Linked DNA regions of Homo sapiens. The protein of the gene in region 6 interacts with the protein of the main gene of each other region in a biochemical or structural test. Each region holds a gene or a part of one and is shown on either strand. Other genes may lie near its edges. The genes, in order: SNTB2, SNTG1, MAGIX, SIPA1L3, MPP4, DOCK4 and PDZD2.

Region 1 (3,500 bases), on a different chromosome or scaffold from region 6:
ACCGTGGAACAGCTACCTGCTTTTGGTTAAGATTGCCAGATATCATTAGGACACAGTAGCAGCAAGAATGCTGATTTTGTAGTGTTAGAAAATGAACTCAGCTTGTTTTTCCTAATTTTGAAGGTGGTATATATCTGCAAACATTTAAAATGGTATAATATCATATAAAATGTCAAAATTAGCACAGTCCCTGGATCTCAAAGAATAGGTAATATTGACTTGGATGTTCTTTATGCTCTCTGAAGAAAGGTCTAGGGAAAGTTCTTGTTTGCTTGATTGATCAAGAGTGCCACGGAAGAATGTGAGCGCTGTGGAGGGTGGAGGAGGGTGTCACTTCAGATGGGGCAGGCACAGGGGGAGAAAAGAAGAGAAAAACACACCTGTGTGCAAAATGAGCTATTTGGTTTCAGTGCGGCCTGACCGATGGGGAGGACCCATGAGCAGAGAGAGTTCTAGGTCAACATTGTAACTCCATTGTCCTCCTTCACCCATAAGTCAGTCCTCCTTCCTCATTACAGTGAAACCAACAATATGCAGAGGTTGGGGAGAGATGCCTGTTCTTCCCCCAGCTTCATATAATTGTCAAAGTTCCAAAAATGAATTATCTGAACTGCTTAAAACTGGAAATTAAAATCTAGACAAGAATATGTCTTTCAAGAGCTTTTTATGTTTTGAAAGTTCATAAACCTAAGATTGGCTCCATCTGAGATAAATTTTCTTTTCTTTTTTTTTTTGAGACGGAGTCTCGTTCTGTCTCCCAGGCTGGAGTGCAGTGGCATGATCTCGGCTCACTGCAACCTCCACCTCCTAGGTTCAAGTGATTCTCCTGAGTAGCTGGGGTTATAGCTACCCACCACCACACCCAGCTAATTTTTGTATTTTTAGTAGAGGCAGGTTTTCACCATGTTGGCTAGGCTGGTCTTGAACTCCCGACCTCAAGTGATCCACCTGCCTTGGCCTCCCAAAGTGCTGGGATTATAGGTGTGAGCCCCCGTGCCTGGCCCACAATAAATTTTCATTTCAGAGAAGGAAAAAAATCTCTTGAACGTCCAGAAATGATTTCTGGAATCAGAATTTCAATATGTAATACCCTCAGGTAGGCAATCTTGAACCCTCTATGCAGTGAGAGCATTATTAATATGAGATGTTGAATGATGCCTTTACAGACTTCAGCAGCAAAGCCATTTGGTTGAGGTTTTCTGTGTTAATGTGAAAAGCTAAGCCACTGAGATTTGCAGGGGAGCTTCTGAGCCACCCTGCTTGTTGGTTATATGAGGATGTAAAATAGGTGGAATTAAAATGTGAGCAGGAAAGGCAAGGCATGTGTGCATTTTCACTCATTTTGGTCAAGGTTAAACTGACATGTATAGCACTGAGGTCTGTAGGGTTCTTAATATCTTTTGAGTCTTGCTGTGAAATGAAAGTGTGGGAGGTTTCCTTTGTCCATTAGCAGCCCCAAGAACCAGAACCCTTTTGCTGCTTTTCTTACATACCTAACAGCTCTCCAGTCATGATGACCAAGGTTGTTCTTCAATCAAATGTGTTTGTGGGATTTTCAGTCCGCAAATGAAGTGCTCTCTAATGAATGGGACACCATGATAAATATGTATTTATATTTAGATGCCAAAGTATGGCAAATTATTTCCAAATGATAACTACAAATGGGAATTTTCGATATTCTACCTTTTTTATAGAACCAGCTCACTTTTCATTTCTTTTTCATTTTGAATTAAGAAAATTGTTGAGGATGTGGTGGGTTCCAGTGTGTGGAATGGAAAGGAAACTGCAGAATAGTGTCTGCTCCCCATTCAGAGGGACTGCTTCCTGTGCCCCCCAGACCCGGGGCTTCGACAGCTTCTCCACATTCCACACAGATGCCTAGGAGCAGCGAGTTGGTATATGAAAAGTCTCCCACCTTTTCTCCTAAAACTTCTCTCCTTTCTCTCCATAAAAAGAAAAGGAAAGGAACAAAAGAAAAACATTCAGTTTTTCTTTTTCTGAAAAAGGTAAGTCCTTTCCTGAAGTCATCAAATGAAACATTATCTGGAAATTAGTTTCTAATGTTGTATATGAAGAAATACTTAAATATAAGTTCCTGCAGTATTTATTAGATAGTTGTAACTGTAAACTCACCTCCCTAGTAGATAAGAGTTTCAGGTTAAATACTGGAACATATATAGGCAGTCAAAAATACTACTTTAAATGTCATTCACCTATTTTAAAGCCATGTTTTAGCACTTTTTAGGCCAAAGAAGGTCTGATAGTGCCTGTTTTTATGTTCTGTACTCTCACAAACTTTGTTACTCAAAATTATTGCATGGCAGGAGAGATTGGATTATTTATTTCTTATATTTTTATAAGTAAAAAAATCTTTCTAAACAACAAATACCTAACATTATTACTGATTGTTTTCCTAATTTATCCTCCTAAGTTGAATGGTAACAAAGCTTTTCCAGCTGAATGAATGCACTTAGCTGATAAACCAGAATTTGTTCTTTTTTTTCCTTCTTTTTTTTTTGAGACAGGTTCTCACTCTGTCACCGAGGTTGGAGTGCAGTGGTATGATCATAGCTGACTGCAGCCTCAACCTTCTGGGCTCAAATGATCCTTTCACCTCAGCCTCCTGAGTAGCTGGGACCACAGGTGTGTGCCACCACACCTGGCTAATTTTTATGGATTTTTTTTTCTTTTTTTTTTTTCGCCATGTTGCCCAGGCTGGTCTTGAACTCTTGGCACTCAAGCAGTCCTTCTGCCTCAGCCTCCCAAAGTGCTGGGATTACAGATGTGAGCCACTGCACCTGGCCCCAGAAATTATGCTTAAAAAAAAAATTAAGCTGTGTGGAATCTGGACAAGGCTATGTTTCTCCTAGAAACAGGTTTTGCTGTAAATGGTTTTGATGGGCGAAAGTGTGAGAAAAGGTTATAATAGATTCTTTTTTTTAATTTTGTGAGAAATTCCAGGTCTTCTTGCTTAACTTATATGCATGTGGATATATTTGTTTTCAAAGCCATGGAAGAATCTCTGTTCATATATTTTAATGCAAATTACCTTGTATGCTGCTATGCAAATTCTATTAAAAGGCCTACCTGCTTAAGAATTAAACATTTTTGAAACTTTCAGGGAAGACCTGTAGACTCAAGCACTTTCTCTGCTTTTTTGTATCTTATCTTGGACACTTATGCTGAATTATGTTCTTATTATTTTCACTGGTTATAAGCTATTCCTTGTACATAATATTTAAACTATCCAAATATCCAGCATACATTTCCATGTGGCTGCCATCGGCTGTTGATGCCATGAATGAAATGGCTGGTTAGAAAGCCAAAGGTCTTCTTTTTTCAATTCCTAATGAATAAGTAAAATGCCAGATCTCTTTGGTCTCAAAGCAAATTGCTCTGATCAGATCAAATATCTATGTAATGAAAAGAGACTTACTTAAATTTGGGATTCTGCTTAAACTTTAAGTTGAATTTGACTGTAGTCATTCATTCTTTTTATA
Region 2 (3,500 bases), on a different chromosome or scaffold from region 6:
ACACCTTGATCTTCTCATCCAGACCACAGTGCTTTACCTACCATCTATGTGCTGACAGAAGCTGAACTTCTATTCTGAACTCTAATTTTTCCCTTAAATCCACACTAATATATGCAGTTCTCCACTTATCACCTATATGTCTAATATGCGTTCAGATGTAACATGCCCAAAACCAAAATCTTGATCTTTACTTCCAAACCTGCTTTTCCCATAATTTCTCCATTTGCAGAGCAACACGTTTTTTCCAGTTATTGAAATCTACTTTCAAATTCAACCCCTTTCCATATAGAAAACTTTGTAACTTCTCCTTCTTTCAATCCAATTCTCATAAAGCTCATTCTCAATAGTCTAACCAGAATCATCATTTTCTGACTTTTGTCAATGCCTGTCACTCCTCTGCTCAAAAATTTCCCATGGTTTCCCATGTCGCTCATAGTAAAACTCATAAAGGCTCATGCAGCATGCAAAGTGTTTTCTTTGATCTCATTGTCTGCCAAGTACTTCTTAATTCATTCCATTCCACACAAAATAACCCTTGCTTTTCTTCTGACTCTCCTGGAATGTCCCTATCTCTGGGCCTTTAAAATTATAATTCTTGTGTCTGGAATATTTCCCCACAAACATGGAAATGGCTCACTCCATCTTCCCTTTCAAGTTCCATATACAAGGCAACATGAATTTTCCTTCCCACGGCCCTTTGAGTAGTCTTTGCTGTCTCCTCCGCTTTATTTCTTGATGGTAACTGTCATATTCTGACATATTGTCCTTAATTTATTTCTGCCCTTAGTCACATTTTGCCTCCTGTCACTGGAAAGTAACTCCCATCAGGACTGTTTTGTTCCTTTGTTTGTTTTTGTCTGTTTTATTCACTGCTATCTTTTAACAACAACAAAAAAGAGTAGATGCATAGGAAGCATTTGGTATTTTATTGAATGGCTGACTCTTTACATTTTTGAAGATAGCTTATATTTAGTGATATCTGAGGGATCATGATGATCATAAGACTTTTTTTACAAGGGAAACTTGTAAGTCTGTGACTTGGTGGAAGCTGTCGGTGGATGGATAGATAGATGTTCATCATCAGTGGATGTTTGATAGGTGGTAAGAATGCAGGTCTAGTACTCACATAAGAAATTAGTAAATGAGCAGTGTGAGTTTACATAAAAGGAATCGTTGACACCCTAGGAGTGGAAATGGTTGCCAAGGCTGATCACTGAGGCAGAGGAAAGATGTGTGGGCATTGTAATGAAGAGTCAAACTTGGATCCATCTTGGTCTCCTGCTTTCTCTTCTAATCACCTGCTATTATTTCCCGTCTACCATTACTTCAAAATGGGTATAAAAAGTTTAAAGTGTCAATCTATATCAAATTATTGATAAATAATTGACAAGGTGGGAGTAATTGAAAATTTTTATTTTTCTAAAGATGCCTGGATACTTAGATATTTAAGGGTTGTTTATTTTTGGTAACCAAAATATAACCTCTATTTTAATAAAGAGATGGCAGAATTACCTTTGAGAAAAAGTTATTTGCCATACTATTTTCACCCAATTGTAACACTCAACTATATTCTCCTCCTTACCAAGAATGAATTGCTTATTTTTGTTGTTGTTGTTTTATTTTTTAATAACATGCAAGAACATTTTACATTTTCCCAAAATTTCCAAACCTTTCACATTAGGTGGATTTAATTTGGGAAGATAGAGAAAGTATTTAAAATGTGTTTGGGAAATAAACTGGCTACACCAAGCATTATGGGGTGAATGGAGGATTTCCAGGGTGAGTTAAGGCAAAGAGAAACTTGCTTATTTACAAATAACATGACTAGTGCCACTGAAGCAGATTATTATAAATAAAGCTTCTAAGATCATTATGATGGAGTTACTAAAAACTTTTTTGGTGGAAATATCTAAGGGAATTAGAATAGTTAAATGAATAACCTCTTCTATTCTCTAGGACAAGTTGCTATTTCACAAAGGAAACTATCAAATATTGAAGGTTTCAAGGGAGCTACTGAGAAAGCATAGCTATGTCTTCTATATTATAGGGACACCTGAATATATATTATGGGGTATCGTACTCCTGTTGCATGACCTGAGAAAATACTCCTCGGATGAATTATTTTATTTAAATAGCTGTCTGGTACACGACAGATATTACAATGTGTCATAAAGTATTGAATATTTTGTAATATTTTCCACTGCCACATGTAAGTTGTAAACACAGTCATGTACATATCAATTATAATTCTAAATTCTTTATTACATATATGTAGTGAAATATATAATAAAATAGCAATGAGTTTGTCAGAAATTTCATATGCTTTATTACCCTCTAGTTACCCTCCTTGTGATAAGTTCATCGTATTGATTTCATTAAGCACACAAATGTATTAGTCTTTCAATCATCTTGAAATTAAGACATGTTTATGTGATTATTGATGGTCTTTAATAATAATACTAGCAACATCATCTTTCTAAATGTATTCTGAGCATAGCTTTAAGATTTTATAGTTATTTTGACAAAATTATGGTTTGAAATAACTTTTTCTGTTTTCACTGCAATATATATAGTTTGGTTGCCACTGGTAATAAATGGGTTACAAATTTCCTTTGGTATTTAAATGAGAAACCTATTTCTAAAAATCCAAAATGAATTAGTGAGCTCTAGTTTATTTTTTTTTTTTTTAGTAAATATGCCACATAAACCATTAAACAGCCAGCCACAATTAAAATTAATGCAGGAATTATTTTTTGAAAGTGAACCATTTGGCTCCTCTGGTTATAAGAGTTCATATCCCCTTACTTCTAGCATTTCTTATTCAGTTTCTTATGGCAAATATTAACTCATTCTAGAGAATACTCAAGAATAGTTTTAAATTGCCCTAATCCATATTTATCATCTGATGTGTGCACAAAGAGATAAAAATACTTTTAAAAGTACTTCCAAGTTTATCTTTAATTGTACATTATCAAGAGTAAAATTTTGGCAAAATATATTTATCAATCAGTGCTAAAAGAACATTCATAGATGGTAAGAGTGATTAGTCCTCCTACCTCTTATCCACCATGTATTGAAATAAATTTTCACTACTTACGATGTTTACACGTTGACCAAAAATGTCTACATTTGAAATTAGTTTCCACATGTTACATATCATAGATTCTAGATAAGTGTATTGAAATTGAAAAAAAATCTAGCTATTATAAATTTTTAAAGACATTAATTTTTATGTTATCTGACCTGTTTCTCTTTCCCTTTCAGGAGTTGGAATTTTCTAATTTATTTGCTGTTCTTCACTGCATTCATTCCTTCTTTGCTGCCAAGGTAGCTTGTTTGGACCCTCTATTTTTAGGCAATCAAGCTACTGCTTCTACTGCTGCCAGCTCTGCTACCACGAGCAAAGCAAAGTATACAACTTGACATACTGAACTCTTCATTGACACACCCCATGACTGTATAAGCAGGACACATTTACTCATCATTTTAGACCCTAGAGA
Region 3 (4,196 bases), on a different chromosome or scaffold from region 6:
TCCCTGCCCCTACGTTATTCCTATCCTGGGACCCTGTACCCCTCCCTGCCCCTACTTGTGAGAATACCATGACCTCTTGCAGACCCTCCCCACAGAGACCACCAAACCCTTCCCACCCAGAATCTCAGCTTCTCCACTCTGTGAACCTCTCCCTTCTCCTCACTGATCTCTGACTTCTCTCCCTTGGGAAACCCACCAACTCCTTTTCGGGGCTCTCCCACCCCTCGAGGCTTGCCAGGGTGGGTCTCCAGAGGCCGACGAATAACCAGGTGGAGCTGGGGGCCTCCAGCTCGGATCCGCTCCACGGCCTGGGCATGGGTGAGGCCCTGCGTTGACTCTCCGTTGATGTGGAGCACGAGGTCCCCGACCTGGAGGAGTGCAATGCAGTCGTGTTGGAAAGGCAAAAGGAGAGCACCCCAACAAAGGCAGGGATAGCACCTACCAGTGGAAGGGGCTTCAGGGCTCACCTCCAAACGACCACAGCGCTGTGCTGGGCCATCCTTCAGCAGCCCGCGCACGGCCAGCGGAGTGTCCCCAGCTACATCCCGGCCCCCACCTAAGGTGAGGCCAAAGCCTGCGTAACCGCGAACCAGCTCCACAGAGAAATGACCAGAGGCCTGGGATGGCTTCGGAGCACTACGTGCCTTACCCTGGATCAATTGGGGAGGTGCGTTACATGTCTCTAACCAACGGTGCTGGAATAAAGGACACAGGTGTACATAGTTTGCCCTGAGGCAGGAGGCCTCCGATAGAAGGATGAGATGGTACCTGGGGCCGGTGATCCACAATAGTGGCATGAGGCAGGCGACTGTCTGTGACCTCTATGTCCGCAGAGTCCAGCACGCTAACAGCTGGGAGATAAAAGCAGTGGAGAGGGCTGTTGGGGGACATGCCATGGAAACTACCTAGGACCTGTTCCCTGAGTTAACATTCTAGCCTCATCTACTTGTCTTGCCCCTGCAGCTCATATACAAACTGGCCCACCATTTACGCACCATCCCCTCAAGTAATCTTAAAGGTTCTCAGCCCAAACAAATTAACTGTTCTGACCCCACCTTCTTAATAAACAATCCTGGGCTCAGCCATGTGAATAATCTTCCAGGCCTTCCTATCTCCCTCTAATAACACGCAGAACACATCCCTCAAACAACACCATTCGGCCCACCCTGGAGAATGCTACTCCAAAATTTGGCTCCTGAACCTTCCATAGCACGCCCTCTAATTAGCCTCTAACCCTCATCCCATTCCTGACATCTCAAGCCCCGCCCCCATGGGACTATAGGCTCCACCCCCGTGACTCACATTTCAGGCCTGCCCCTTCGCTGCGTGCCCGCCCCCCAAGCACTCTCCAGGCCCTGCCTCCTCAAAAAGGACCGCCGCCAGAACGGGGGTCCAGTTCCGCACTCTCATCTAATCTAGCCCTCGCCGACTGCAATAACCCTCAAGGAATATGCTAGAATAACCCCAAGGCTCCTCCCACTCGAAGCACCCTCCGATCCCCGCCCCAAGTCGCGCCCCTTGGCCCCACCCAAGACAGGGCAGTAGCTGCTGACCCCCCAGGCCTGTCCCACTGAACCCAACTCCTCTCCGAACCCTCCCCCAGCGGAGGCCCTGCGCCAGTCACTCACCCTCCTTCCGGCGCAGGCGCAATGTGGCGCCCGCCCTGCGTACCAGCGCTGCCACGTCGACCGCAGCTCGCGCCGCCAGGGGGCGCGCGTCCAACCGCGCCAGGAGCTGCCGGGCGCTAGGGCCCGCGAGCGGGGAGGGGCCGCGGCCTGCGCGCAAGAGGGGACAGGTCAACGCCGACCCTCGGCCTCGGCCAACCCCTATGCTTCCGGACGCTCGAAGACCTAGAAATGCCCCTCAGGATACCCGGCGACCCCTGGCCACTCCCTCGATAGTTTCGGAGGTCACTGCTGTCCCTCCCCTCACGCGATCCCCGACCGTCGCGGGTAGCCGGTGCACCCCCGCTTGCTCCCACGGTGTCCCTGGAGATCGCTGTTTGACTGCAATAGTCCTAGACACCTCCGAACACCCCGTGAGGTCCTCGACTGCCCCCTAATCACCCTGGATGCCCAACTCTTCGCCCGCGATATCTCAGGGGACCCCATTTCCCCAGATATCCTGGGAGAACACGGCCTGACCCCATAGCCCCGGAACCCCCAATTCCCCGTCTAAGTATCCTAGGCAACCGCTGCTACCCCCATGAATTCCCTCAGAGGGCCCGTTCCCCCCATGGCCCACATACCTCCAGAGTCCCCCTCCACAGGTCCCCAGGGGCCCCCAGCTCCCCTCCCCCCAGTTCACTAAGACCCTGAGTGCCCAGGTGTCCCCAGTGACCACGGGCAGACCCCTCCCCGCACATCTGCACGTCTCCCTGGAGACTCCTGAGAGCCCCTCCCCTGCTCTGGTGCGCGGCCCTTTCCCTCGTGTGTGGGTGTGGGTAGGGGACCTCCAGCCCAGCCTCCATCGCTGGGCCCCTGCCCCCTGCCACCTTCACTTGGGCGCCAGAGCCGCTCTGTTTACCACCTGTCAGAAGGAAAAGGTGTGGAGCAGACAGGCGGGACGGGGATGGCGGCGACTCGCCCTGTCCTTCCCCAACGACCCCAATCCCTGTACCTCCTCTGCTCCCCCTAGGGTCCGCGGCGTCCCCTGTGCGCGGCTCCATGGCCAGTAGTCCGCCGGGTGGACGCAGGGCTGCCAGCTACGAATTTTGAGCTCTGGGGCGCGCTCACCTGGCGGCCCGCCCAGGCCCTGGAGGCTGAAGCTGGCGGGTCCCGTGCCTGGCTCCCGGACCCGCGCGGTGACCTACCTGGCGGCCAGCAAGGAGGCCTGGCTGTAGGAGCCAGGAGGAGTGCTTGGCCTCACTCTGCTGCAGGCGCCGCACTCTGTTAACTAAAGGTCCTAGTTAGAATTTAAAAGCCTGACAATACCAACTGTTGCTGAAGATATGGAGGAAATGGAACTCCTATACCTCCGGTGGAAATGTAAAATGATATTGCAACTTTATTTATTTATTTAGAGACAGGGTTTCGCTCTTGTTGCCCAGGCTGAAGTGCAATGGCACGATCTCGGCTCACTACAACCTCTGCCTCCCGGGTTCAAGTGATTCTCCTGACTCAGCCTCCTGAGTAGCTGGGATTACAGGCATGCACCACCACGCCCCCCTAATTTTGTATTTTTAGTAGAGACGGGGTTTCTCCATGTTGGTCAGGCTGGTCTCGAACTCCCTAAAGTGCTGGGATTACAGGCGAGGCCCGCCTCAGCCTCCCAAAGTGCTGGGATTACAGGCGTGAGCCACTCGTGCCCGGCCTGCAACTTTAGAAAACAGTTTGGTAGTGTCTTTAAAAACTAAGCGTACACATATGAGCCAGCCATTCCACTCCTGCGTATTTATCTAAAAGAAAGCATACATTTACACAGCCTTGTCTTACAAATATTCATAGCAGCTTTATTTCCTGTCTTATTCATTTAGAACTACTGTAACAAAATATCGTAGACTGGGTGGTTTAAACAACATAAGTTTCTCACAGTTCTGGAAGCCGGAAAGTCCACGATCAAGGTGGTAGCCAATTTGGTTCCTGGTGAGGTCTCTCCTTTTGGGTTGCAGATGCTTGCCTTCTTGCTGTGTCCTCACATGGAATTAAGAGAGTGAAGGAGAGTAAAGGCGTGAGAGAGGCACACACAGAGAGAGGGAGAGATCTCTCTCTTCTGTTTCTTATAAGGTCACAGTCCTATCTGGTTAGGGCTCCACCTTAGTGACCTCATTTTACCTTAGTTGCCTCCTAAAGAAGCTATCTTCAGATACAGTCACATTGGAGGTTAGAGCTTTAACATATATATTTATGGCTGGGCACAGTGGCTCACGCCTGTAATCCCAGCACCTTGGGAGGCCAAGGCGGGTGGATCACCTGAGTTCAGGAGTTCAAGACCAGCCTGGCGAACATGGTGAAACCCCATCTCTACTAAAATATACAAAAATTAGCCAGGCGTGGTGTCAGGTGACTTAATCCCAGCTACTTGGGAGGCAGAGGCAGGAGAATCATTTGAGCCCGGGAGGCAGAGGTTGCAGTGAGTGGAGATCGAGCCATTGCACTCAAACCTGGGGGATAAGAGCGAGACTTCTCTCAAAAAAACAAAACAACAACAACAACAACAACAAATATATATATATATATATATTTATGGGTGGACAC
Region 4 (2,331 bases), on a different chromosome or scaffold from region 6:
GTTTCTGTTTCGAAAAAAAGTTAAAAAAAAAAAAAAAAAGGTTTTTTTAGAGGTAGGATCTTGCTATGTTGTCCAGGCTGGTTTTGAATTCCTAGGCTCAAGCAATCCTCCTGCCTCAGCCTCTCAAAAAGTGCTGGGATTACAGGCATGAGCCACTGCACCTGGCTGAATGTCCAGATTAAAAGTTGGCCACTATTTCTAAGACCCAACACAACCCTCTGGGCTGGGGCTGGCCTTCAGGCCTCCAGTATATGACCTCTGAGGCAGAATCTCACTCTTTTGAACTTAAGGACATTTCACATTCTGAGTGTTGGATTTCTGTCCTTTGGATTCCAAGGAAAAGAAGTTAGCAAGGCAGGTGCCCCTGGTTCTTAGGACATGTGTGTGGTGGTCATGGTGTGGGGGATTTGGGGACAGGAGCAGGAGGAGGGGCCGATGCTGGACCACACCCTCTGGTCAGCAACTCCAGGCAGCTGCCCCAAAAGTGAACACACAAGCCATTTCTATGAAACCTTTATTTCCTTTGAAACCTCCAGAAACATGCCAGAAAATCTCAAGACAGGGATGGGGAAAAAAAAAAGACAATAAAGAATAATAAAAAAAAAATCCAAATGAAACAAATCAACATATGAAAAAAAAAACCTGCTGCTATCTTCGGCCATTGGATAGAACATCAACCTCAAATTAAATAGATCTGTTTTTGCAGAAATCCTTAAAAAATAACAGAAAACAAAACCAAAAATCATAATTTACACTTGTCCATGTACATGATTAAGTCCCCAAAATGATTCGAATGATCTGAAGATGGGAGGAGACAACTGAAAAAAAAAAAAAAAAAGGGACCCGATGAGGGTCTAAGGGGTGGGGGTGGGGGACGGGTGGGCCCCCCAGAGAAGGGGATGGGGGAGAAGATGGCATCACAGTAGCTGGCCAGGGCTGAGGACGCTGCCTGGGGCACGCCCACCTCACTCTTGGTGTTGGGGGTGAGGGTGGGGGCAGGGGCAGCGCTGAGGTTTCCTCCTCCAGGGGGCCAGAGGCTGATCACAGGAGACGCGATAAGAACCCTCTTCTCTCACCCCCACCCATCCACACCGGCACCTCCGAGTGCCTGCGTCCTATGCAGTCCCCAGAGCCCCCTCCTCTGAGGTTCCTGACCCCAGAGAGAAGGCAGCAGAGGTCCCTGGACAAGGGCCGGGTTGCCTGGTGCTGGCTCACAGCCAGACCTGCTCCGCCAACTCCTCCCCGCCTGGTGCCTCCCAAAAAGGGCACCGGCCTGCCCTGACTTCATCCCTCTGGTCCTCCCACTGACCCCCAGCCCACAGGGGACACGCCTTGGTCCTCAGCTTGAGGTTGGGGGGATGAATCCACAGACTGTGGCCATACAGGCTTGTTCTGGCGCCAACTCTACATGAAAAAATAAATATATATATATATATATATATATCTTTTTCTGTTTGCTTTTAAAGAAGGAAAAAAAGAAACGGTTTCCTGGAGGAACAGCGTGGTACCACACCGGCATGGCCGCCCCTTATTGCCTTTAGAGAACCAGCGTCCAGTGGGGTTCGCGGGGTGCAGTGCTCCCCGGGGAGCATGGTGAGGGGGTCTGGTGGCCGCTGCTCGGAGAGATGGGCTGGGAGACTTGCAAAGGAAAAAAAAACCAGAGGAGGAGATGAAGGCTGTTCTCCTCCAGCCCTGTCCTGAGGGCTTCGGGAGCCCCTCCTGGAACCCAGAAGAGGCCGAGGCTGCTGGTCAGGGCCAGGTCGTGCCGGGAGGAGGAGGAGAGAGTCGGCTGTGTGGTGGCTCCACCGCCCCGGCCTGGCCTGGTTAGCTGGAAGGTGGAGGGGCCTGTGGACCCCTAGCCCAGGTGCAGTGGCCTCTGGCGGAAGAGGAGCTGATAGAAAAAGATCGTATAAACCGTCCTGGAGATCCAAATAGAGTTTCTCTCTCAAATAAATCGGCTCTGGAGGCTAGCCTTGCCTCTCTCTATCCTCAGGCCCCCAAGAAAATAATTTAAACTCTAAGAAAGTGCTCCTGGCTGCTTTTTGGGAGGAGGGGGTTAGGGAGGGGATCATGTTCGTGCTTTTTGGAGCTCACGTGCTAGGGACCGAGGCGCCCTGGTCTGTGTCCACGCGGGCCTCACCTCTCTGGGTGTGGGGAAGAAAGGGTTGCTTTCACGCTGTACTTTTCATGCAGGGGCCTCGGCCCCACAAGCCGCAACTTTGTTGTGCGTGGTGCAGAAACCTGCTGTGTGACCTCCTGGAGCCGAGGCGTCTGGAGACTGGCTCCTCTCTCCGTCCCCATCAGCTTCGAAGGGCTGGTCCCAGGAAGAGG
Region 5 (4,257 bases), on a different chromosome or scaffold from region 6:
TTGGAAGGGGACCAACCCTTAAAAATCCGTTTATGTTAAATACTTTGCATTTACATTGGAGATTGTTTTGAGTTTCTGAACAAACACATAAATAACCACATTTGCCTGGTAAAGCCAAATTTACAGAATTTCTGACTCTGGGCGGGGGTGGATAATATGTGGAAATGGACAAACAAAAACTTTGAGACAAATTGACCCATTGAGAAGATTTCCAATGATGATAGGCTGTCTCTGTTCTAAGAAAAGCCATGTTACAATTCGTCCTTTTACTGGAGTCTTGAATGAAACTGTTCAGTTACTTTGGATTCTTCCTACTATATGCTTTTCAGATAGCATATTAAAGTTATAAATTTTGAAGTGTATTGGAAGAAAAACCCTAAATCTCCAGGCCAATGTTTGTAAATAGAAGTCCTTGGCACTCCTGCAGCAGTTTACAATGGTCATTCACATGCGTAATGAATGCTTACAGCAGCCCAAGGATGCAGGTGTTATCCCCATTTCCCCCCATTTTTCAGACAAGCAGTGACCAAGATTTGCTCACTGCCAGAGCTGGGACTCCAGCCTAGAACTTCCCTACTCCCTACTTCCCTAGAAGTCCAGTGCTTTTTGCTACTACAGCTGCCAGAGATGTCATTTCATAGCTGGTTATGTATTGAAAGTTCTTAAAAGTGAGTTAAAAATGAAAATCTTATTGAAATCAAGTGCTTTTCACAAAATATGCTGTACTCAAAACACAAATGTATCACATTCCCAACTTGTGTTTTCATCTATGATGGAGAGATAAGGAAAGCCATGTGATTAATATGGGTAGAAGGGCTGAGGACCCTCTGATAATTGCCATTTGGTCTCTACCTTTTGCCTTGCTGTCAGCAATACCTTCCTCTCCTTTCTGCAATATCCCCTTCCAAATGCTCTCCCCACTGAGCACTCCCTGCAGTATTAAGTTTTCAGATAAAGAAGTAGCTCCTATCTGAGACAGAAAGCACTATTTGTTAGGTTCAGAACAGTGGCTTGGGAGGGGATTGACCAGAAGGTACTGTTTTTGATGGGTTTCTATTATTAGCTGAACAGTCTTCAGTTGTTTTCTCACCATAACATGAGAGATTTAATAAGGTTAGTAGGTTATTGGCTTATTTCCGGTCCTGCCACATTTTTTTCTTTCATTAAAAATGCTATCTTCTGTTGTGGAATGTCTGTCATCTTGAACTAATCAACAAAAATACTATGTTTTTCTGCCGTTAACTATGTGTTGGCAATTTGAGAGAAAATACTAGAATGTAGGTTTGAAAATGATACAAATTAGACTTCAAGGAATACTTAAGAAGATTTGTGGCAGGAAAGGCTTGTGAGTAATTTAGTTGTTAGGCTGGGTTAGGCATCTGTGGATTACATCAAAGAGGATGTGCAGAGATTTTATCGGGAGCAGTGAGGTGACTTTGGCAGCTAACAGGCCACTAGTATCCTACTAAAGCTTTTGTCTGGATAGGAGCAACATGCATGTTTACAGTCTTGCAGGTAAGAGACCTTGGCAAATAATCCTCAGTTACCAGAAGATGTATCCATAACTGCCTAGCTTGCCTGTCAGTTTTTAATAGCTAAAGATATAAATCTGGGTAATCTAACTCAAATGGCTTAGTTTCATTTTAACTCAAATGATATGGGGAATTTTATGATCTTGAAAGAGCAGGTTTTGCTTCGAGAAGCCATTTCTTCAGTATGGAATAATGAGTTGTCAGGAAGATTGAGTACAATGGGCATTTGCCCTGGTCCTAATCAACAGCATTTGGACCCAGAGGAAGCCAGCTATTTTTGTAAGGGCCATTTCTCATCATTAAGTTTCCAAGTGCTTTTTTAGGGTTTGTCTAGTAAAAAGCACTATTTTGAAAAACAAGCATAGTAAGGGTAGGGGGTTGTGGCATTTAATAGTACGTTTTAAAAAGCTAATGGAAATACTTTTAAAACAAGATTTAGGACAAATTCCTTAGGCATCAGTCACACTAATGCATCTTCTGAGTCAAGAACTGGCTATCCTTTCTGTGTACTCAGTCCGGAATTGCATGTGGTGGGTGCTTACTTATTTGCAGTCTCAATCAAGAATTCTCACTCTCAAGATAGCAGAAATAGATAAGCTTCAACTGACAAATTTGGTACAGAAGTCATGGAAAGGAAGGTAAGTCTTTTGCCAGGCATCATGCCAGGCATCAGCATCTTTCAGGACTAAGGAAACAAAAGAGGAAAACTCGATTTTACTACATGTTAACTCTACTGAATACCTCCTTGAATGTCAGATTCCTTATCTGTAAAACAAAGGTTTTGCATTTGATTATCTCTAAGATCCGCTTCTGCCCCCAGTTTTAAAGTTTGATAGGGAAAGAGGTTTAAGTCAGGATACCAGGCCAGGGAGGAAAGGAAGGGAGGGCACAGGCCTCTGGAGTTCAGCTGCCTCCCCCATTAGGATTGAAGTCCCAGCTGCTGGCTACTGCCTTGAGGGAGGTATCAGCCTTTTACTTCTGGATCTTGGCCTCTCCTTGTTCTACCCCTTCCCAACAACAACTGAACATACCAAGTGCTTGCTATGGCCCAAGCACTGTTGCAGGTGAAGCTGCAGCATGAACAAGATAAGCAACATCTCTGCTCCCCAGGCCCTCTGCAGACATGACACCTGCGGGAGACAGACACTGAGCAAGCCAGTGGATACAAGAACTGGGAAAATGAGAAGTGCTATGAGGGCAAGAAGTTGCAACTGTTTTCTTAGCTACCTGGAGGGAGGGAAAATCATTTTCTGGAAGTTTTTTTCTATGAGTTTTGTCTTAGCTTTGGCTGTCATAACAAAGTACCATAGACAGTGGCTTAAACAACAGAAATGTATTTTCTCATACAGTTCTGGAGGCTGGAAGTTGAAGATTGGGATGCCAGCATGGTTGGGTTCTTGCGAGGGTTCTCTTCCTGGCTTTCAGATGGCCGCGTTTTCACTGTGCCATCATCTGGCAGGGAGAGAGAGAACACATGAACTCTGATGGCTCTTACCCAGACGCTAATGACATCTTGAGGCCTCTACCTCATGACCTTAACCCAGTTACCTCCCAAAGGCCCCATCTTCAAATGCCATCAACAATGGGGATTAGGGCTTCAACATCTGAATTGGGGGTGGGGACACAACATTCAGTCCACCATAAATTTGTCATAGGAACCTGAAGATGAGGAGCCAAGCACAGTTTTTAGAATTTGCATAAGTTGTAGATTACTGTAATTATTGTTTTTGCCTCTATGGCTGAGAAACTTTGGGTCAAAACGAGCCTTTTAGAATGTATGAATTAGTTATCTAGGTAGCCCTGAAGTTGGCTCTAGATTTATTAGAAGCTATTTTAACCATTGCATTCACTCAAGAAACCACCGCCTATCTGTGAAGCACAGTCTATCTGTAAAGCTCCCTCACAATAAATTCATCTCAGAAATATGTAGTCTCTAGTGTGTGCCCCCAACTGCTGAATGGGTAGGCCTAGCTCAGCACAGTCATTCGGGCATTAAATATGGCAGAAATGTGGTCCACCTCATGACGTGCAAACAACAGTTGGCTTGTTTAATCTGCACTGCTTTGCCAAGGACGTGTGATTTGTGAGGTGCTGGAGGGGAACCAATTTTAAGAGTCAGCCTGAGTGTCAGCCTCATCTGTCTGCTCTGACTTTTGTCTGCTCTCTAGCAGGCACTCCATCTCCCTTTTCAATTTTCTACCCTGGAAGTGCTCCCCTCCAGGGAGGAAGATGAGTCAGATATGCAGCTGTGATGCTAAATGATTCAATAGAGTCAAAAACAACACAGAACACAGGAAAACGCATTGTTTAATCTGACTCAATTACAAGTGGGCAAGGTAGGTGATGGAGGGCAAGTCAAAAGCATAACGATGTCAAGCTTTGGTAGAACCTAGCAAACCGGAAGACTTCAGGGTGTTTGGAAAGGAATGTGTAGGGGAAAGTTGTCTAAAATGCTGTAACAGCTTTCTGTGTTGCTCTTCTCACTGCCTTAGAATTTAGAGTCAAAATAATAATGATCTTTTCTTCTTTTAGATAGCCTTCCTGGCTTCAACCCACAATCAGTCTAGATTCTAGACAGTGGTTCTCAACCCTATCAGAGTCAATACTCCAGTCTTTAACAACTAATTTGAAGTGTTCCTTTTATAACAAAAACCTTAATGTATTCTTTATTGTCCTACTATAACAATGTTGTTGGTCCCTACCCCCACCGCATACCCCTTGGTTG
Region 6 (3,500 bases):
GGTCTGCAGCTGCCTCGCGGGTTAGTTATTTCATTAAGAAATAGCGTATTTGACAAATTGTGCCATAAAGAATGAGAGAACCATTCCAGATCAGCTTGCGGGTGAGGCCAAATTGTAAGATAATTTGGAATATGACTTACCTGCGTCTAGGAATTACCCTGGTACCATCTGGGCTCACAGAAGCAGGTGCTGAGTTTCTACACACACGAGGGCTTCCATTAGGAAAATGGACAGGACTGGCTTGCATACAAGCAGAGAACTCCTAAAGATGTAGTAAAGGAAATATCTCATTACAGTAATGATTTGGGCAAAATAACTTATGAGACAGGTTAGCATACTAGGCACACATCCTAATTGCCATCAAGTCTTCACATAGGGAGCTATTAAAGCAAGTTCCAGTATTATTTGGCTTTCCCTCACTTACATTTGTGTTTTCCCAAAAGGAAAGCCTCGCAAATAGCAGACAAGGCAATTGTATTTGAGGGCTCCCTGGTAAAACAGTGCAGTTTGGTAGAAAAACCACAAGATGTCACTATTGGATACATCATCATCCCTTTAACAAGCAAACGGCAGTGATCAGGCTGCCCCGCCATGGACACCTAAGTATACATACCTGTATCCCTAAGCTCGACTTCATCACAAAGAATTGGTCAACCAGCTTTTTGTGAAGGGGTCTCATATCTTGAGGTACAAACTTCTCATGCACGGCCAAACCAAATTCCAGAATCTGTGCCTTAATTCACAACATAAGGAAAAAACCTCACATCAATGACTACCTCTCACTAAGTGCCTGCTATGGGCCGAGCACTTTACTACGCATTTCGCTTGCATTATTGCTAATCCTCTGCCTCTGACAAGGTAGGAACAGCTGTCACTTTACAGGTGAAGAAAAACTGAGGATCTGAAAAATCCTGCATGGATAAAAGACAAATGGGGATTAGAACTTGGTTCTGATTTCAGACTTAATTTTCCTACTCCCCCAGGCTTCTTTCCCATGTATTTTAGATCTATAATTATAATGCCTCGTAACAGTTATGTGTCCTTTTGGCCCCTTCCTTCTCTCCCCAGGGTGGAGAAGGAATAGGGGCATGTGCTGCTCACTGTTAAGAGGGCCGGCAATTCTCCCTTAAAGATCTCTTCTTTGCATGGCACCCTCTCCCCCCACATTTCCCTCTCCCACTAGGTTCCTCTGTGCTCATCCATCCCTCCCACAGACTTTCAGAATCTGCCAGGGAGGATGGAAAAAACAAAACAAAAAGGAATTCTATGACAGTTTCCATGCTTCTTGTTTTTGTTTAAAAAGATTATTCCTGGCCAGGCGCGGTGGCTCACGCCTGTAATCCCAGCACTTTGGGAGGCCAAGGCGGGTTGATCACAAGGTCAGGAGTTCAAGACCAGCCTGGACAACACAGTGAAACGCTGTCTCTACTAAAAATACAAAAATTAGCCAGGTGTGGTGGCACGTGCCTGTAGTTCCAACTACTCGAGTGGCTGAGGCAGGAGGATTGCTTGAATCCGGGAGGTGGAGGTTGTAGTGAGCCAAGATCATGCCACTGCATTTCAGCCTAGGTGACAGAGCTAGACTCTGTCTCCAAAAAGAAAAAAAAAAGAAAAAAGAAAAAAATCCCAAAAAACATTATTCATATTCACTTATAATTCAACGAGAGAGCAGGTCCTACTTAAAAAACTTTCCTGCAGTGAGGATCCGAAGAGATGAAGGTAAACATTCAACCTTCCTTTGTGCAACCATCAACAGTGTGTGATTCCTTTGATTCGAGCAGCAGCTGTCTTTTGTATTTTAAAAATGCCCCCCATGCTAACATGGTCAAAAGGACAAATTCCATAGACTGGGAGGAAAACGAATCCTATATCACCACAAGGTTTTGTTGTTATTGTTGCTATTTTTAATCTTTGCAGCTCGTGAAGATTTTAGGTTGAAAGCTCAGGTCAAACAGGACTGACCCTGGCGGGTTGGGGCATCCAGCACCTTCCCTAAGGGACGGGGCTCTGGATGCTGCCCACTGCCAGCATATTTGCATAACAAATATCAAGGATGCCTTTGAAAGGCACACTTGGAGTGCAGTGTGTATGAGGCATAAAGGGAGAGGCTACATCTGTGATGAGGACATGGAAGGGATGTAGGAGGTGGATCTAAACGCAGAGGCCCCCAGTCTTCTCCATTTTAAACACTAGCGTTGGGTGACTTCCCTTTTGTTCACAGAATGTTGCAAGTTGGGTTCTCTGGGAAGTAGACTCCAGCATGGATTTCATAATGTTTATCAGGGTGTACCTTGGGATTGATGCCTGTCAGGGGGAGGGACAGAAGCCGGACTTGACAAGAAAAGAAGTTGAGCTGCACAGCAGTCCTGTCAGCTACTGCCAAACCCAAGGGACCTCTGGAATGTTCTTAAAAATTTATCTGTATTTTAATCTTTTTAGAGACAGAGTCTCACTCTGCTGCCCAGGAAGGAATGCAGTGGTGTGATCATAGCTCACTGCAACCTCGAACTCCTGGGCTAAGGTGATCCTCCCACCTCAGCCTCCCAAGTAGCTGGGCCTACAGGCATGCACCACCACACCCAGCTAGTTTTTAGGTTTTTGTAGAGATGGGGTCTTGCTATGTTGCCCAGGCTAGTCTTGAACTCCTGGTGTCAGATGATACTCCTACCTCAACCTCTGGACCTTTAATGGTCTGTCAAAGTTGTCCTGTGTTGGTCCCAAATGGCCAGGCTTTCTATTGCTTCCTCAGTATGGGATGTGCACCACTGAGAAGGTAGCAACCTTGGGCCAAGTGGCTCTCTGCAGTGGAGGCAATCCCTGAAGGGCCTGACAGCTGGAGATGTCTGTTGAGAGCCACATTTCCTGCAGCTGAGGCAGAGTAAGTCTGTCCTGGAAGGAGCACTGGGGTGGTGCATGTCTCTGTCCTCTAGAGAGTTTATCTGAACTACTTTGCAGAGGTCCAGAGAAGGATGGTGCCCTCTCCAGTCCACCTCCCCACAGAGATGATGAGACTTGGCCAAGGGCACATTGACAGTCACGTGCACTGCTTGTCTTATAACAGAGATCTCACATTTTCTAGGCCATGGCTCTTTCCACAAGGTTTCAGGAACATAAGCAGGACGTAGAAGAAATAAAGGTTCCCTGGTTTTATTTTTCTTGGCAGTCTTCTTGACCCTGAGCTACCATTTAATTCTGGGGAAATAATTCAGTCAGGCTGAATCCAGCAGATACAGTCCTGGGGTGGAGTGAACCATTCATAAGAGGTAAAACACAGATCTTTAAAAATCAATGAAGGTTAAAGTCATTGCATAATCCTAAGTAATGGATGACCTCAACTGCTCACTTCTAGTATCTACAAACACCCAGAGTCACATTGAGAACTTGACTTATTCTTTATTTCCTTACAGATCAGCTTCAAGTAATTCTTCTCTCTCTTCTGTGGCCACCTCTCTCCCTGTAGTATTAGGTTTTGTGGACTAAGCCTACAGAGCATAAAAGAT
Region 7 (3,500 bases), on a different chromosome or scaffold from region 6:
GGATGTTCAATTGTAAGAAAGATTTAGAGGTGGAAAAGTTTTGGATTGTGTCAAGATTGTGAGTGTGGCCTGGAAAAGGGTGGCTAATTTGAGTTCTATTGCCTTTGTACCTCTGATGCATTTAGGTGACAATAAACATTTCTCATCTCAATATTACTCTATTATTAACAAACAAACAGCCAAAAGAGAAAAAAAAAATCAAGTAGTAAGCAGAGTGTTTATTTTTTTTAAAATTACTTAAAAAAGGTTGTTTACAGAGATGTGGATTTATATAACTTGGTGACAACATTTTTAAAATGTACAGGCTATTTCATATTATTGCACTTACTCTTTAATATATAAGGCATTTTACTTTACATAAATAAAGGTTAATGTATAATATCATACAAAGTTATGGTGCCAATTAAGTCAACCATCAAATTCAATGAGATGTGTGGGAAGATGGAAATGAAACCCAGCCTACTTTAATCTTCATGGTATATTCTTGCAACTACGGTTTACTTGTTATAACACATATTTATTTACCCTCATAGCTTATTGTGAATGACTGACCAGTTAAAAAAAAAGAAACAATGACAGTTTTAGTAGGACAATACCATTAGTGTTCACTTCAGAAAGTGTGGGAATTTATTAGGCTAATTAGAAATACTAGTCATGCCTTGAACACTGAAGACAAATAAATAGCTTTCTATCTATCTTAGGGTCAAAGACAGTTTAGCTTTTGCTTCTTCCCTTAAATTTCAACTGTTTGTTGGCGAGGGAAACCTTCTGGCAAGATGTAGTAGCAGTGGCTGATGACTTTAGCATAGTGTATGTGGTAAGCCAGAGGTCTACCCTTGTACTCCAGATATGAGGATTAAAAAGACTTGCGGAAGGAGACCATTCCATTTGCTCCACATTGCACAAGAAATTCCTGTCTGTTCACATAGGGCTGTGCGTTTATTAATTAATTATTATTAGGCACAGCTGTAAGAGTGGAGGCGAAAAGCAGTTTTCAGTGTTGTTGACTTGAAATAGTCTTTGATTTAGGCAAGAAAGCAGAAACCACAAAACTGACCCCAGAGACTGAAAAACAATCAATCAATATCTATCAATCAAGCATGCACCTTGCACTGACTTCCTACAGTATTCTACCTGTAACTGTAGTGAAAAGTAGAAGTAAAATCAATAAGACCTTTCTAACTAACTCCTGTACCATATTTTCCTTTGTATTGCCAGTTGATGAGAAATCTGGACTCAGACAAGCCAGCTATTTCTCTCTCATCTGAAGGACCTCTCTAGGCCGACTTCAAAGATGTTTAGTGGGATTGGTCATTCAGAAAAATGATGATGTACAAAGCTGATGGCTAAAGCCCCTCCATGAATCTGGGGGTCACAGCCATAGACCCAAGCTGTAGGTTATTTAAAGAAGTATCTCCAACATAAAATCTTAGTGTCATGCACACAGGTATGGCAAATGCACTCTCCACTCATGTTGTCAGGGCTCAACGGGTTGGTTTGTGCCACTGAAGACGACCTGGCTTGTAACTACATTTCTGCTCCTTTACCTTGACTCACCCTGTTTCTCCTCCTCTTTATGACCCGATGAGAGTTTGGAATTATTTACCTAAGAAAATAAGGTACATCATGAGGAGAGAAAAGCCAGCTATGTGACGACGAACGGAATATCCAATCGGAATAGCTACTGGGAAGCAGCTCATGCCACCAGAGGAGGAGTGGCCAGAGTGAGTTTCCCAAGTAGCGTGAGTCACGACAGTCTTCTGTAGGAAAACATTTTTGGCAAAAGGAGGAAATTGCAAAGCGGGAAAACGAAAACAGCAAAAACTTAAGTCACTGCAGTTGTCATTATACTAGGTCAAGAAAAGAGATCCAATACTTAGAATGTTACATTTCTTAAACATGTTGGGAAAGAGGGAAAAAAACCAACCAGTCTCCTAAAAGGATTCCATTAAGCTCCTCTATTTGGATTGTACATACATTGTCTATAAATCCAAGGACACTTAGAAAGATACTTGATTTCTAAAAATTTAGTTTAAATTCATGGTTGGAGTGCATAAAATTCAGAAATGGAAACCCAGTGACTGACTGACTTGTGATATTTTTGTCTGCTCTTGGACTGACCAGTCTTGAATTCAAGCACTTATCAAGACAGGTTCAAAAACTAGTTGTAAGGTGCTTTTAGATGTTGACCTTTCTGCTCCCTCTAAGCAGTGAAGCTCATGGCTATTTAATACAGCTTATCAGAAGTGCTATTCTGTAAAACAGCCTTATGGCTTACACTTTTGAGATAGAAAATGATCAATACTTCATGGTGATCAATAACCTATTGAGTTGAACTTTGCATACGTACATTATACATTACACTCACTAAAAAATACTCTCAATTAATTATTTTGCTTTTTCCTTTTTGGACAATTCCTGAGCTCAGCCTAACAGGTCATAATTCATTTTTTTAAGTAAGTCTTATTCTCTTTTCAGGGTAACATATACAGACCTACATCTCCTCCTTCCATTGAATGTGCCTAAAAGCATTCTGTCATTTACTTACAAAATCATACAAAATGATTGATTGTCCTCTTAGGTGTGACATTTGTGTCCCCCTCAGACTTTTAGTTCCCTGATCACCAGGATTGGGTATGTTGGGAGAGCTGGCAAGAAGGAAGCAAAGGTCTAGCTAAATGTTTGTTTGTTTCAAATAAAGAAGGGTGTGTCACATCTTGTATCCCCATCAGTAAACATAACATAAAGGTAGGGGACAGGCACTGGAACGAAGGAACCCTCCCGGCCTGGGTGACGCAGGTGGAAGGCTTCTGGAGTTAATTTCATTGCTGTTGCACATACAGTTAAGTCAGGCTTCATGTGTAAGCACAAGCTTGGAGATTTTTATAGTCCGTGTCTGTACCAGTGTTGGCCATTTCAACAACCTGTGGTTTAAAGAAGTCACTCTGATTTGCTAAAGAAAGAAGAGAACTGAGAAAATGATTCTTGTTAAAATTCATGAAGAATTCCTATGCTTTCTAATTAATAACTGCACAGGTCCTTCTGGGACAGACTTCATAATATTCCAGGCATCAAAGTGCATGAGCCCAACCAGAGGTTTCCCATTAATAGCAAGAATTTCATCTCCAGCTTCTATTATTCCAGCTTGTTCAGCCGCACCACCTACGAGAATAAACACAGAATAATTAATAGCTTGGCAGTTTCATAGTATTCAAAAATCCTAAGTAAACTAAAAACTTTTAAGTGATAAAAATATCTAAATAATATATTATTGAATAGAGAAATATTTCTTAGAACACAAAAAGCATATATCCATAAAAGTAAACTGGTCTACAGAAAACAGTGCAACTCTAGCCCTCCTGCCGCCCCTCCAAACATAATCTGTAAGATAAAAATAAACTGACAAGGGGAAGATACTCTCTATGTATTTAATCAACAAATGGTTAACATCCAGACTAAAGAGCTACAAGTCAACAAGAATAACACAAAATAAAGTTGGG

The links.
Region 1: the proteins of DOCK4 (region 6) and SNTB2 interact in a test that uses a peptide from one of them, tested with the Homo sapiens proteins (one large-scale study listed by IntAct).
Region 2: the proteins of DOCK4 (region 6) and SNTG1 interact in a test that uses a peptide from one of them, tested with the Homo sapiens proteins (one large-scale study listed by IntAct).
Region 3: the proteins of DOCK4 (region 6) and MAGIX interact in a test that uses a peptide from one of them, tested with the Homo sapiens proteins (one large-scale study listed by IntAct).
Region 4: the proteins of DOCK4 (region 6) and SIPA1L3 interact in a test that uses a peptide from one of them, tested with the Homo sapiens proteins (one large-scale study listed by IntAct).
Region 5: the proteins of DOCK4 (region 6) and MPP4 interact in a test that uses a peptide from one of them, tested with the Homo sapiens proteins (one large-scale study listed by IntAct).
Region 7: the proteins of DOCK4 (region 6) and PDZD2 interact in a test that uses a peptide from one of them, tested with the Homo sapiens proteins (one large-scale study listed by IntAct).

The regions. Positions count from the first base shown.
Region 1 is NC_000016.10:69,302,164-69,305,663, forward strand, and holds part of SNTB2 (beta-2-syntrophin), read left to right. Parts: 3' UTR 1-3,500. UniProt on the Homo sapiens protein: Adapter protein that binds to and probably organizes the subcellular localization of a variety of membrane proteins. May link various receptors to the actin cytoskeleton and the dystrophin glycoprotein complex.
Region 2 is NC_000008.11:50,789,407-50,792,906, forward strand, and holds part of SNTG1 (gamma-1-syntrophin), read left to right. Parts: intron 1-3,264; coding exon 3,265-3,423; 3' UTR 3,424-3,500. UniProt on the Homo sapiens protein: Adapter protein that binds to and probably organizes the subcellular localization of a variety of proteins. May link various receptors to the actin cytoskeleton and the dystrophin glycoprotein complex.
Region 3 is NC_000023.11:49,161,362-49,165,557, reverse strand, and holds the start of MAGIX (PDZ domain-containing protein MAGIX), read right to left. Parts: upstream 2,801-4,196; 5' UTR 2,669-2,800; coding exon 2,620-2,668; intron 1,776-2,619; coding exon 1,629-1,775; intron 852-1,628; coding exon 769-851; coding exon of another isoform or gene 696-768; coding exon 468-695; intron 369-467; coding exon 197-368; intron 1-196.
Region 4 is NC_000019.10:38,206,539-38,208,869, reverse strand, and holds the end of SIPA1L3 (signal-induced proliferation-associated 1-like protein 3), read right to left. Parts: 3' UTR 501-2,331; downstream 1-500. UniProt on the Homo sapiens protein: Plays a critical role in epithelial cell morphogenesis, polarity, adhesion and cytoskeletal organization in the lens.
Region 5 is NC_000002.12:201,695,845-201,700,101, reverse strand, and holds the start of MPP4 (MAGUK p55 subfamily member 4), read left to right. Parts: upstream 1-1,457; 5' UTR 1,458-1,515; intron 1,516-4,257.
Region 6 is NC_000007.14:111,741,400-111,744,899, forward strand, and holds part of DOCK4 (dedicator of cytokinesis protein 4), read right to left. Parts: intron 734-3,500; coding exon 614-733; intron 263-613; coding exon 141-262; intron 1-140. UniProt on the Homo sapiens protein: Functions as a guanine nucleotide exchange factor (GEF) that promotes the exchange of GDP to GTP, converting inactive GDP-bound small GTPases into their active GTP-bound form. Involved in regulation of adherens junction between cells.
Region 7 is NC_000005.10:32,107,631-32,111,130, reverse strand, and holds the end of PDZD2 (PDZ domain-containing protein 2), read right to left. Parts: exon of another isoform or gene 3,163-3,500; coding exon 2,996-3,162; 3' UTR 199-2,995; downstream 1-198.